Linked DNA regions of Homo sapiens: region 2 is reported to be linked to region 1. Evidence: microRNA targets listed by miRTarBase, many of them from high-throughput screens and not tested one by one. Region 1 holds a microRNA gene; the other region holds the end of a gene's coding sequence.
The links. Region 1 holds the annotated microRNA hsa-miR-7152-3p (UCUGGUCCUGGACAGGAGGC, at 4,001-4,020, shown strand). A microRNA usually pairs through its seed, bases 2 to 8, with sites in the 3' UTR of a target mRNA and lowers its output. Matches are read on the target gene's strand: a 7mer-m8 pairs with bases 2 to 8, a 7mer-A1 pairs with bases 2 to 7 and ends in A, and an 8mer does both.

Region 1 (7,000 bases):
AGCCACCATGCCCAGCTTCTACTCCCTCATTTTTGCCCCCACTTTTTCTCTTTTCTGCTCTCATTTTTCCTCTCCCTTGCCTGGCTTCAGGAGGGCCCCGGGTAAAAGCAGCATTGAGTGGCAGGACTCGGTGGGCTTAGGGGCTAAGCCCCACTCTGCTGCTAACTCACCACTTGGCTCTGAATGGGCACTCCCCATCTCTGCACCTTGGTTCCCTTGTCTCTGAGGTGGTGACAGTGCACAGGGGTACTGGAGGTTCTGAGGTTTGCGAGTGTGAAGTGAGGCACTGGCAGAGTTTGAATGAACTCCAGCCAGGGCAACAGGAAGGCCTTGAAGGTCGAGAAACAGGACTCATCTTCCCGCCTGAAGTGAGATGGAACAGGATTCAATCCCATTTGCCACACCTCCGTGAAGGAGTTAAATCCCTATTTGCCAGACTAGAAAACTGAGACCCAGACAGGGGAAATGAGGCACCCAAGATCACCCAGAATAGGGTCTTCAACCCAGGTCTTTGAACCCTGGTGTGGGCGCTTTTCAGATTTTTTTTTTTTTTTTTTTTTTAGATTCAGGGAGTACAAGCACAGGTTTCTTAACATGTCCATATTGTGTAGTGGTGAAGACTGGGCTTTTAGTGTACCCATCAGGTGTACCCAAAACTACCTATTATGTCCAATGTTCACTGAACTGTGAACTCACTGCCACTCACTGAACAGTGAACATTGTACCTAATAAATAATTTTTCAACCCTCACCCTCTTCCCATCCTCCCACCCTTCTGAGTCTCCAATGACTCTTATTCCATTCTGTATATCCATGGTTACACATTATTTAGCTCCCACTTATAAGTGAAAATATGCAATATTTGACTTTCTATTTCTGAGTCATTTCACTTAGGATAATGGCCTTCAGTTCCATCCATGTTGCTGCAAAAGACACGACTTCACTCTTTCTTACGGTTGAGTAGTATTCCATGGTCTATATACCACATTTTCTTTAGTCAGTCCTCTGTGGATGGACACTTACATTGATTCCATATCTTTGCTATTGTGAATAGTGTGGCGATAAACATGTGAGTGTAAGTATCTTTTTGATATAACGATGTATTTCCCTTTGGGCAGGTACCCAGTAGAGGGGTATTGTGGGATTGAAGGGTAATTCTGTCTTTAGTTCTTTGAGAAATCTCCATATTGCTTGCCACAGTGGCTGAAGGAATTTACATTCCCACCAGCAGTGTATGAGCATTCCCTTTTCTCTGCATCCTCACCAGTGTCTGTTGTTTTTTTCTTGAGATGGTGTCTTGCTCTCTTGCCCAGGCTGGAGTACAGTGGCACAATCTCGGCTCACTGCAATCTCTGCCTCCTGGGTTCAAGCGATTCTCCTGTCTCAACTTCCCAAGTAGCTGGGATTACAGGTGTAAGCCATCATGCCCAGCTAATTTTTTTGTATTTTAAGTAGAGACAGGGTTTCACCATATTGGCCAGGCTGGTCTCGAACTCCTGACCTTAAGTGATCCGCCCACCTCAGACTCCCAAAGTGCTGGGATTACAGGCGTGAGCCACCATGCCCAGCATGTTGTTTTTTGACTTTTTAATAATAGCCGTTCTGACTGGTGTGAGAGGGTACCTCACTGTGGCTTATTGCATTTCTCTGATGATTAGCAACACTAAGCATTTTTTCTTTTTTTCTTTTTTTTTGAGATGGAGTCTTGCTCTGTCATCTGGGCTGGAGTGCAGTGGCGTGATATCCGCTCGCTGCAAGCTCCGCCTCCTGGGTTCATGCCATTCTCCTGCCTCAGCCTCCCAAGTAGCTGGGACTACAGGTGCGTGCCACCACGCCCAGCTAATTTTTTGTGCTTTTAGTAGAGACGGGGTTTCACCATGTTAGCCAGGATGGTCTCGATCTCCTGACCTCGTGATCTGCCCGTCTTGGCCTCCCAAAGTGCTGGGATTACAGGCATGAGCCACTGCACCCGGCCACATTTTTTCATGTTTGTTGCCCTCTTGTATGTCTTCTTTTGAAAAATGTGAGTTCATGTTGGTGTGGGCTTTTCTGATCATCCACCTCTGTGCCCCAATCCCCAACCTCCCAACCCTCCTCCCACCTAGGTGGGGGCACTTTGCTGAGCATGGCCTACAACGTGCCCCATTCTGCCCCTTGCAGGATTATGACTTGCTTCTGATCTTCCTTTCTGATGAGAATGACAACCACCCCCTCTTCACTAAAAGCACCTACCAGGCAGAGGTGATGGAAAACTCTCCCGCTGGTAGGTGCTGGGCCCACCCGGGAGCTCCTGCTGTTGCCAGGCACCACTGGGGCCTGGGATGCCTGAGGACCTCCCTTATGCCTAACGGCATAGCTGAACCTAGACCCCAGTGGGTGCGGGAGGGGAAGGATGGGTGCAGCTCCGGGAGATGGTGGGCTGGGGCTCCCGGGCCTCCTATGAGCACAAAGAAGCCACAGGTCTGGTTGGAAGAGACAGTCGTGGTCATTGTTCCCCAGGGTGGTCTGAGAGCTGCCCCACCATCCCTCAAGAAGGGCATGTAAGGTGTGAGGACTACCCCGGAGGGGAGTGGGTCCACCCCTCACTGCTCCCTCCACCCCAGGAGTGCAGGGCATCCCAGGGCCTTCTGGAAGCCCTGGGGAGCATCTATAACTAGAAGTGGGAGGTCAGGGGGTCCTGGGTAGGCCAGTGTAGCCCTCTCCCCACACACATGCACTGACCAGGCTCACCTCCCTCCAGAGGGACAGAATCTCCTCTGTGATGTCCCCTGAGGTGGCACCTGCACTCCTCCAGTCTCCCCAGCCCCTGTTCCTCATCTCTGGCTGGGCATCCCCCCTAGGTGAATTTCATTCTTAAACCTGTCTGTGTGTATGCTCACACATGTGCCCGTGTGTGTCCATACCAAGGCATGTGCGTGGGGTTACACATGTGCACAGACACATATAGGTACATGGGTGCCCACTGATGCGCTCGTGTGCAGACATGCCCACCTGCAGAGGCACACGAGTGCACAACCAGGGAATCCCAGGCCTGTGCGTGCTCCTGGACAAGTGCCTGTGGCCATGTGAACACAGAACTTGATGCACACATGAGTGGGTTTTTCTAGTCATGTATGGCCAGGCCCCCAAAGGCAGAGCATTGTGTGAACACATGTGTTGACAGGCGAGACCCACACATGGGGAGGGGATGTCAGGGAGCCCCAGACCCTCCCGAGGAGCGGCCAGCCTCAAAGGCTGCTGGGAAGGCAGATGTGGCTCTGGGCAGCCGGGGCCTTGCTCACCACTCTCATGTTTTCTCCCCAGCAGGGCTTTGAGGCCGCTCCCCAGGCATCTGCGTTCAGTCTGCCAAGGCTGCCGCAGGCCCGCCCCCAGGGCCTCCCCACCCTGTCCACCTCACCTCCCTCCCCTCTCATCCATCGTCAGCCATGGCTCACCGGGACAGGGCAGGGGAGGTGGGAGGGCAGGGGGCTGGGTTGGTCTTGTGGTGACCCCTCTCCTTCTGGCCCAGGCACCCCTCTCACGGTGCTCAATGGGCCCATCCTGGCCCTGGATGCAGACCAAGACATCTACGCCGTGGTGACCTACCAGCTGCTGGGTGCCCAGAGTGGCCTCTTTGACATCAACAGCAGCACCGGTGAGGCCTCTGTGCCACCCAGCACTCCCAGCCTGATTCTGGGGTGGGGATGGCCACACTGCTGGATTGAGGGCCTCCCTTCTCAGTGCTGGACCCAGGCTGTCCGTGGAGACCCCATTTTTCACAGCCCAGAGTCCCCATCTTGCAGCTGGGTTATATCACCCAGTGGCCTGGCAGGGGGACGTGGGAAGAGGCTTGGAGACGATACACAGGACCTCTGTTGGTGCACGAACTCTCAGCCTGGGCCGGGAGCCCCCCAGCCCACTCCCGTCATCTCCCCATGCGCAGGCCAGAGGCTCAGGCCCCTAGTCCAGCAGAAGTAGCCAGAGCGACTTTCCTGTCCTCCAACCAGACCATGCCACATCCGTCTGGTCCTGGACAGGAGGCCGCTTTGGTGACAGGTGCCGACAGGAAAGCACATCTGTCAACAGAGACGGTCAACCCTGTGCCCTGGGTCACTCTTCCCAGGCAAGAGTCTTGAAGACAGCAGAGGGCACCTGCAGAGGGGACAACCACAGGAAATGCATGGGGCCCTCCCTCAGCACGGGTGGTTGAGCCTGTGGGGGAGAAAGTCATTTTGTTACTGCCTCTGCTCCTCTTTCATCTCTGTCCCATGGTGCCCCTGTCTTTCTCTGCTCTCTCCCTGTTGGTTCTTGCCCTGTCTTCCCACCGCACCCCTTTTCTGTGTGTTTCCCTGGCTGGCGGCACCGGGTGCCAGGTGTGGTGACCGTGAGGTCAGGTGTCATCATTGACCGGGAGGCATTCTCGCCACCCATCCTGGAGCTGCTGCTGCTGGCTGAGGACATCGGGCTGCTCAACAGCACGGCCCACCTGCTCATCACCATCCTGGATGACAATGACAACCGGCCCACCTTTAGCCCTGCCACCCTCACTGTCCATCTGCTAGAGAACTGCCCGCCTGGTAAGCAGGGGACAGGCCCCAGCACCCCACAACCAGGGGCCGGTTGGTGGTCACAGGGGACTGGAGCCTCAGGTTGGACACGGAGTTTGCCTCCAGTGGGGAGAAAGATGGGCAGCAGGGTGAGTGTAGAACACACTGGAGAGGGAGTCAGGAGACCTGGGCCCCTGCTTCCCTCCTCTGAGCTTCTGTATCTTGCCTGCAAAACAAGATTCTTTTTTCCTTTCTTTCTTTTTCTTTTCTTTTCTTTTTTTTTTTTTAAGACGGAGTTTTGCTCTTGTTGCCCAGGCTGGAGTGCAATGGCACAATCTCGGCTCACTGCAACCTCAGCCTCCCAGGTTCAAGTGATTCTCCTGCCTCAGCCTCCCGAGTAGCTGGGATTACAGGCGCCCACCACCACACCCAGCTAATTTTTGTATTTTTAGTAGAGACGGGGTTTCACCCTGTTGGCCAGGCTGGTCGCAAACTCCTGACCTCAGGTGATCCACTCGCCTCAGCCTCCCAAAGTGCTGGGATTACAGGTGTGAGCCACCACGCCTGGCCTACAAGATTCCTAAGTATTCTCCATTTGAATTCCCAGATGGAAAGACTGACTATTTTAAAGTCAAAATAGGATCAACATGATTCCCATCAAAATCAAATATAACTTCTGGAAGAATAAGAAAATTTTGAAAAACATAAGTATAATAAGCCAGATTTGGCTTACCAGATTTTATAACATATTATAAAGCTACAGTATTTAAGGCCATGCAATATGGGCACAAGACTCCAGGACAAAGTAGCCCAGAAACAGATACTGGTAAATTAAAGAATAAAATATGATGTGATAAAGGAAGCAATGAGGCCAATGGGGAAGCTACTTATTCAGTGTGCAAAAACCTATTTAATCTAATCAATTACATCCAATTATTATAATCTGTATGTAATCTAATATAATAATAATGTAATATTTAGTGTAGATTCTCCCCCATGTCAGACACCAAAATAAAAACCAAAAGAAAATATTAAAAAGTAGAAAACACTAAACAATAAATGAAGAAAACTTAGGTGAATAACTCATTTCTGGGTAAGAAGGTTCTAAGCATAAAAGAAAAGAACTTAAGAGGAAAAATATTAAATTTCTATGCATGCTAATTTAAACCTTGTTACATCAAATAATTATAGCCAATATTGAAAGGCAAACAACAAACCAAAAAGTATATTTGTCTTGGTCCAGGCGAGGTGGCTCACGCCTGTAATCCCAGCAATTTGGGAGGCTGAGGCAGGTGGATCACTTGAGGTCTGGAGTTCCAGACCAGCCTGACATGGAGAAACCCTTTCTCTACTAAAAATACAAAAAATTAGCCAGGCATGGTAGTGGGTGCCTGTAATCCCAGCTACTCAGGAGTCTGCTGCATAAGAATCACTTGAACCTGGGAAGCAGAGGTTGCAGTAAGCCGAGATCACACCACTGCACTCCAGCCTAGGTGACAGTGTAAGACTCCATCTAAAAAAAAAAAAAAAAAAAAAAAAAAAAAAAAATATATATATATATATATATATATGTCTCAAGTTGTCATAATTATGTGACTTGTATAATTGACAGAAAAATGGACAAAAGACAAAAGCAGACCATTTGCAGAAGATACAACTAATTATTACATTATAAAATATTGTTTAATCAAAGAATATAAAATAAAATAACATGCCATTTTCCTATAAAATTGCAAGTATGAAAAAGGTATAAAAGAAAATGCTGTCAAGGCTGTCATGAGAAGGGGACTTGAGAAGATCACCAACAAATGTGTCTTGGTAGATCTTTCTGGAAGAGGCCACTGTGCGCAGCTACTCCCTTTTCCCTCTCCAACAGGATTCTCAGTCCTTCAAGTCACAGCCACAGATGAGGACAGTGGCCTCAATGGGGAGCTGGTCTACCGAATAGAAGCTGGGGCTCAGGACCGCTTCCTCATTCATCTGGTCACCGGGGTCATCCGTGTTGGTAATGCCACCATCGACAGAGAGGAGCAGGAGTCCTACAGGCTAACGGTGGTGGCCACCGACCGGGGCACCGTTCCTCTCTCGGGCACAGCCATTGTCACCATTCTGATCGATGACATCAATGACTCCCGCCCCGAGTTCCTCAACCCCATCCAGACAGTGAGCGTGCTGGAGTCGGCTGAGCCAGGCACTGTCATTGCCAATATCACGGCCATTGACCACGACCTCAACCCAAAGCTAGAGTACCACATTGTCGGCATTGTGGCCAAGGACGACACTGATCGCCTGGTGCCCAACCAGGAGGACGCCTTTGCTGTGAATATCAACACAGGTACAAGGGCCTGCACCCCTCCCACCTCCCTCCCAGCTCCCAGTCCTGTCTCCTCGCTCCCTGCTTCCCCCTTCTTTCTCCTTTCTCTTTCTTTGCTGTTCCCTTGCTACTCTCTTCTCTCCCCCTCCTCTGGAGGGAAA
Region 2 (7,000 bases), not on the chromosome of region 1:
CAAAGCATCAGATCTAAGCCAGATTGGTTCCAGATTTTTGATATTTTGCTCATTGAGTTTATCTTAGAAGCAGGGGTAGCTTTTGCCAGCAGCAAATTCCAGGTAGTTACTCCTTTTAGAAGTTAGAATTTATTCATTTTGCAGGGAAGTGGTGAACTGGGGAGTCAGACAAGAGCATCATGCTTCTTAAAAGCCCAGACCCCTGGCTATAACACATCGAAGATTCTCAGAAGAGAATTGAGGAGCGGACAGGCGCCACACTCCGTTGTGGTCACTGCCTCTTCCTGGCCCACCACACTCCTGTCCTCTGCATGTACTGAGAGCTCTGTCCAGGATGCCAGGGTCCTGCCTCGGCAGAGAGGCGGTGCCAGATGCCCCACAGCAGCTGGTGGGAGTGCCCACAGCTGGAGGGCAGGGGAGGAGCCTGGCCTCTGGCTGGTGTTTCCTTCCCAGCTCTCAAGAACTGGAGACTTTGGTTACAGAAGTGAAGGCTGCTCCCTCACAGACTTCCTAGTGTCCGATGGTACCACATGGAAGGATCAGAGTTTTGAAGGACTGGGCCAGAACCCAGATAGGGCACAAGGCTGCCAGCGCCTGCATTGAGGGAGCTATGATGTGACGGGGGCTCCTGCAGAAGATGGCCTTCCTTGTACAGGTGTGGGGCAGCCTGTGGATGGGCAGTGGGAAGATGGGGGGTCCTCGGAGCTGGAGGTGCCCAGCGGTTTAGGAGGCTGTGCTTGGCACATCTGTAGCCCCAAAGCTATATGTTGAGATCACTGGCACCCAGAGGAGAGACCCAAAAGGGGCAAGAGAACATCTTCCAAGCACTTGCCACTGGCAAGGAGGGTGCTGCCGGCTATTTCCGTGGGAGGTGGGTGAAGACATTTAACCTGGGCTTCCCCAGCAGAAGGAGGTGCCATTGCAGGGACCAGTCTTGGGCTGAGACCCTAGCAAAGGCTTCCTCTGGCAGGGCTGCAGGTCTAGGGTCTGTCTCTGCCTGCTGCGGGCCTGATTAACGCCAGTACTTTCCTTTCCCCAGAGTCGGATGGCAGAGAGCTTGCGCCTCTTTGACTCCATCTGCAACAACAACTGGTTCATCAACACCTCACTCATCCTCTTCCTGAACAAGAAGGACCTGCTGGCAGAGAAGATCCGCCGCATCCCGCTCACCATCTGCTTTCCCGAGTACAAGGGCCAGAACACGTACGAGGAGGCCGCTGTCTACATCCAGCGGCAGTTTGAAGACCTGAACCGCAACAAGGAGACCAAGGAGATCTACTCCCACTTCACCTGCGCCACCGACACCAGTAACATCCAGTTTGTCTTCGACGCGGTGACAGACGTCATCATACAGAACAATCTCAAGTACATTGGCCTTTGCTGAGGAGCTGGGCCCGGGGCCCGCCTGCCTATGGTGAAACCCACGGGGTGTCATGCCCCAACGCGTGCTAGAGAGGCCCAATCCAGGGGCAGAAAACAGGGGGCCTAAAGAATGTCCCCCACCCCTTGGCCTCTGCCTCCTTGGCCCCACATTTCTGCAAACATAAATATTTACGGATAGATTGCTAGGTAGATAGACACACACACATGCACACACACACATCTGGAGATGGCAAAATCCTCTAAAATGTCGAGGTCTCTTGAAGACTTGAGAAGCTGTCACAAGGTCACTACAAGCCCAACCTGCCCCTTCACTTTGCCTTCCTGAGTTGGCCCCACTCCACTTGGGGGTCTGCATTGGATTGTTAGGGATAGGCAGCAGGGCTGAGGCAAGGTAGGCCAACTGCACCCCTGTCGCCTGGAGGAGGGCCAGCTCGCTGCCCGAGCTCTGGCCTAGGGACCTTGCCGCTGACCAAGAGGGAGGACCAGTGCAGGGTCTGTGCACCTTCCCTGCTGGCCTGCACACAGCTGCTCAGCACCACTTTCATTCTGGACCTGGGACCTTAGGAGCCGGGTGACAGCACTAACCAGACCTCCAGCCACTCACAGCTCTTTTTAAAAAACAGCTTCAAAATATGCAGCAAAAACCAATACAACAAAACGAGTGGCACGATTTATTTCAAACTAGGCCAGCTGGGATTCCAGCTTTTCTTCTACTAGTCTGATGTTTTATAAATCAAAACCTGGTTTTCCTTCTCTGACATTTTTTTTTTGTTTTGTTTTTTGGTTTTTTTTTTTTTTTGGCCAAATCTCGTGGTGTTTCGCAGAAAAAAATCCAGAAAATTTCAAATGCAGTTGAGTATTCTTTTTTAAATGCAGATTTTCAAAACATATTTTTTTTCAGGTGGTCTTTTTTGTGTCTGGCTTGCTGAGTGTAAAAGTTGTTATCTGGACGATCTGTCTCTCTGCTCCAAAGAAATTTTGGAGTGAGTGGCAGTCCTGCGCCAGCCTCGCGGGACACGTGTTGTACATAAGCCTCTGCAGTGTCCTCTTGTTAATGGTGGGGTTTTCTGCTTTGTTTTTATTTAAGAAAATAAACACGACATATTTAAAGAAGGTTCTTTCACCTGGGAGCAAATGAACAATAGCTAAGTGTCTTGGTATTTAAAGAGTAAATTATTTGTGGCTTTGCTGAGTGAAGGAAGGGGAGCAAGGGGTGGTGCCCCTGGTCCCAGCATGCCCCGCGCCTGAGACTGGCTGGAAATGCTCTGACTCCTGTGAAGGCACAGCCAGCGTTGTGGCCTGAGGGAGGCCCTGCTGGGACCCTGATCTGGGCCTTCCTGTCCCAGGGCCTATGGGCAACTGCGTTGAAAGGACGTTCGCCAAGGGCCGTGTGTAAATACGAACTGCGCCATGGAGAGGAGAGGCACTGCCGGAGCCCTTGCCAGATCTCCCTCCCTCTCTCCGTGCAGTAGCTGTGTGTCCGAGGTCAGTGTGCGGAATCACAGCCAAGGACGTGAAGAGATGTACGGGGGAAAGAGAAGCTGGGGATTGGATGAAAGTCAAAGGTTGTCTACTTTAAGAAAATAAAATACCCTGAATGGAGCCCAGCATTGTCCCAGTGTGCTATGTGTGTAGCTGACCTGTGGCTGGACTTGGTGCCATCTGGAAGGGCAGCCGGGGACACCTCCATTCTGAGGTCCCATATTCCAAACCCCACCCCTATACCTCCACACATTTAGGTAGAGTCATTTTGCAATGAACATCACAAATAAACATCACGAGAGGAAAGAAACTGCAAAGAGGGGAAACCTGCCAGGTCCATGCAGTCCTGGTGTGGAGGTCTGGGGGTGATGATGACTCCTGCCCCTCCCGCTGCCCCCAAGACCCCACCCAACACTGACCCAGGCTGTGCCATACCCTGGACCCCTCCCACCATGTGGACACCTCAGCCAATGTCAGAGTCATCCTGCAGAGTGGAAGAGGTGCCCTGAGGGCCTGGAGGGTTCCTGTGCCCCCAGTAGTGTAGGGCAAACCTTGTAGGGTTTTGGAGAGGAGGGGTCCCTGAGCATGCAGTGCTCGCTGACTGGCTTGTGTGGTTAGAGGTATCTGGATATAGTGGAAAAGTGCCGATCAGAAGTCAACGGAGTGCATTCACCGAGGGCCTGCTGCGAACCAGGCACGGAGCCGGGCTCCTTACTAATGATTTTATGTAACACCCCACCTCAGCAGGTTGCCAGAGGTGCCCATTTTACAGATGAGGAAAGGTGCCTGAGGTCAGGGAGCAGTCAAGCCAGGATTCACCAGGCCAGGGAGCTGTTGCTCCCACTGGAGGAGCAGAGACGCTGATCTTTCCTCCTGCTGGAGTCCTTGCCTGGCTTGGCACCTGCACAGGATGGAAGCCTACAGGGAGCAGCACAGAACCACCCTGCAGCCTCCTCCTCAAAGCAGGACCTCAAGCAAAGTGGGGGGTCGGCAGGCACACACACGCATGCATGCACACAAGCACATGCACACACGCGCAGATACGCACGCAGCCCTGGTGCTGTCACCGCCCCATCCCTACTCCTAAGCCCACGCAGGGACTCCCTTCACACCTTCCTACGTCACCAAACAGCCAGAACCCAGAGGGGCTTTTGTTTCTGAAGAAATAACGTGTGACTTAAAATCGTTGAGACTTATTTTGTGCTTTTAATGCCAACTGTGAAAAGAGCAGTAATTTCGCCGTGAGCATCTTTAATCTAAAAATACATGGCTAAAGGGAGAAAGGGATTGAGCCTCCCTTCCTAATGTGTGCAAAGATCAGAGGAGGCCTTCCCTGGAGGGAGGTTTCTCCCGGTTCCCAGAACCTAGCCAGGAGTCTCCAGTTCCCCCATAGGCTGCAGAGAAACCTCAGGCGCTGTCGACCTCTCTGGCCCCGTCCTCCCCTGCAGTTCACCTGCACTGGTTCTCCTCCTGAGCCTGCCTTGTTCCGCTCTTGCCCCCAATGATCCCTTTGCCTAGCATGTCCTTCCCCATCCTCACAGCTCAAAGTCACCTGGGCAGCTTCTTGGAAGTCTCCTCCTTCCCTGCATTCCATCTGTCAGGGCTCCAGGGTCGAGTGGGAAGGGGTGTTGGAAACTCCATTGAGCAGCTCAAGGCCAGCGCCTCTGACCCACCTCATTCCTCCAAACAATGCCCCATGGAGAAGGCGCATGCTGAGCTGGGATGGTCCAGGAGTCTTAGCCAACGGGAGGTAAGCACCAGGACTCACCAAGGTTGCTGGTGAGAGGAGGCTAGAGTAGGTGGCAGGGTGCCTGAAGGGGAGGACCTGGGGATGGCTGGGCCAGCCCTGCCCACTGCAGGTGACTAATCCCGCCTTGTCCTACTTCACGCAGCCCCAGCCTCCTTTCCCAGGACCCACCATCATGTGGCTCCCTGTGGGATATTGCCATCCTCACCTATAGCCCACGTGGTCACCCTGGTGGTGCAATGGGTCAACAACAGTGGTCACGATAATCCCAGCTCTCCTCAGTGACTGCTCACTGGGGGGCACACTCATGGGAGGCCAAGATGCTTGATTCCATTCTACAGAAGTGGAAGCAGAGACCAGGAGAGGCGATGACTTATCAGCATCACACAATGTGACCCCACCAGGCCAGGACCTGAGGGGCTTTACTCTGTCCACATTCCCCAGATCCCCACAGTGGCAACAGGCCCTGGCACCCTACTTCCAACGTCAGCCCTCCAGAACAAATGGTCCATCTGGCTCAGGGGACAGTGCCAGGAAGGGCTGCACTGCACCATGAGGACTTGAGGCAACACTGAGGCTGGACCTCACCCTGGATGAGCTCACCTCACCCAGATGAGCCTGACGAGATGGGGATGCCTGACAGGCCGGGAACCAAGAGGCCAGAGTGTCCCTATCAGTGACCATCATTCCTGCTAAGTCCAGGAATGGGGTACAACTACCCACCAAAGACTGTCAGGCTGAGGATGTGCCTGGGGTTCTGGTGCACCCTGCCCTGAGGGCAGGCAAGACAGAAAAGGGCCTGCTCCTCTAGGGCAGCTGGCCTCCACCCCTCACCCTGTGGCATCAAGGGGAGGAGGAGGAGGAGGCTGCTCTGGGTCCATCGAAGGAAGCTGGGTGTCCACGGGTGGCTGCTGAAGAGGGACAGGGTGCAGTGGTGGCCCACCCAAGGCCACTAGCCTGGAATGAGACATACGGCTCACTGCAGTGGGAGCACCTACTTTGCTTCTCCAGCAGCCCACGTACCTGGGGTTCAGATGACATTGGGTGCATTCTGGGTGGTATAGCTGTAGACCCCCAGATTTCTCCCTAGCTTAGATGCTATGACTCCAGGGATGTCCCCTGAACCCCCAAATGACTTGGATCAAACTGCATCCAGACATTTCACCCGCGGCACCCTCCCCTTCCCAAGCCCAGTTCTCCTTTCCAAGGTCACGGAGCCAATTTCCAGAGGCAGGGCCCAGGCGCATCCTTGCTGCCTCCCTCCTCCTCTCGGGCTGGTGCTCTCCTCCGGGCTGGGAGGGTCATCCATCTCCACCCCCGGGCTGCACACGTGTGGAGTCAGGGTCAGAACAGGCCCCATCATGCTGCTGCTAAAGCTGGGCTGGGGTCTCAGAGCCTGGCACAAGGAGAGGGAGACTGGAGGCAGGGCCAGAACAGACTCACAGGTGTGCCCAGTCAGGACCAGTGGGATGGTAGAGGGATACTTCCGGGGGACCCTGAGCTGTTCAACTGCACCCCAAAATCTGGTTAGAGAAGAATTGTCAATTTCAGCCACAGAACTCTCTCTCCCACAAAAATGAAACCTGTTTTCTCATGGGGTTCTACTCCATTCCTGGACTTAGCAGGAATGATGGTCACCGATAGGGACACTCTGGCCTCTTGGTTCCTGGCCTGCCAGGCCTCCCCCTCTCATCGGGCTGGGGAGCAGAAGCAGACCCTGTGCATCACTCAGGGCCCAGCTGGCAGGGAGCCTGGGCTGGCAGCCTGTGTGTGACATCTGTCTCTACAATCCTATTTTCTCCTCTCCTGACACGGCACCACCACGGCGCATGAGTAGCCAGCCTGGAAGGAACTTAGAGGAATGCGTGTGGGTGAGCGCAGCAGCTTGGGCCCAGGGCCCCTGCAGGGCCAGGGCCCACTTGGGACAATCCTCAGTCCTGGGGTGCCCCCTCCTGGTTACTCTGGGAAATCATGCAAGTCAGACTTGGCCAGAGCAAGGATTCTGAAACCACTCTCCCAGACACCCATGACACAGGGGAAGAAACTGAGGCACGGTGGCCAGAACAAAACAGGGGCCCAACACATACTGTCAAATGAATGAAGGAATGAGCAAGCAGGTAAGTGAACTGTAGCAAGAAGACAACCAGCAATTGATCCTTTAAAGTATGACATAAAACCTACTAAACAGCCAATATTTGTTGAGCGCTAGCCACATGCCAGGCGCCCTGCCAGGTGCAGAGGGTGCCATGGTGAAAACGGCCTTCCAGTGTGGCCACTGATAGGAAACCATACCAATGGCCACCAGCATTCACTGGGAGCCAGCTAAGCCCTGCTCAGAGACTGTCCCAGCTAAGCCACACAGGTGACACCCACGTTCCCACAGGTGAT

Region 2: miRTarBase lists GNAZ as a target of hsa-miR-7152-3p. Seed matches in the 3' UTR shown: 7mer-m8 at 1,863-1,869.

Annotation. Positions count from the first base shown.
Region 1 is chr10:71,786,781-71,793,780 of GRCh38, forward strand. It overlaps MIR7152 (microRNA 7152), which reads left to right and starts at 3,967; the gene lies at 3,967-4,020. CDH23 (cadherin related 23) reads left to right here. Exons shown (of 70, transcript NM_022124.6): 45 at 2,160-2,262; 46 at 3,508-3,633; 47 at 4,352-4,555; 48 at 6,402-6,860. RefSeq lists an enhancer at 3,508-4,407.
Region 2 is chr22:23,122,048-23,129,047 of GRCh38, forward strand. GNAZ (G protein subunit alpha z) reads left to right here. Exons shown (of 3, transcript NM_002073.4): 3 at 1,040-2,985. The coding sequence ends at 1,384. All of the region lies in intron 4 of RSPH14 (radial spoke head 14 homolog), which reads right to left. Among named protein-coding and RNA genes, the nearest start is that of RSPH14, 16 kb to the right of the region's middle. RefSeq lists enhancers at 1-466, 4,117-4,994, 5,359-5,948, 5,949-6,536, 6,393-6,672.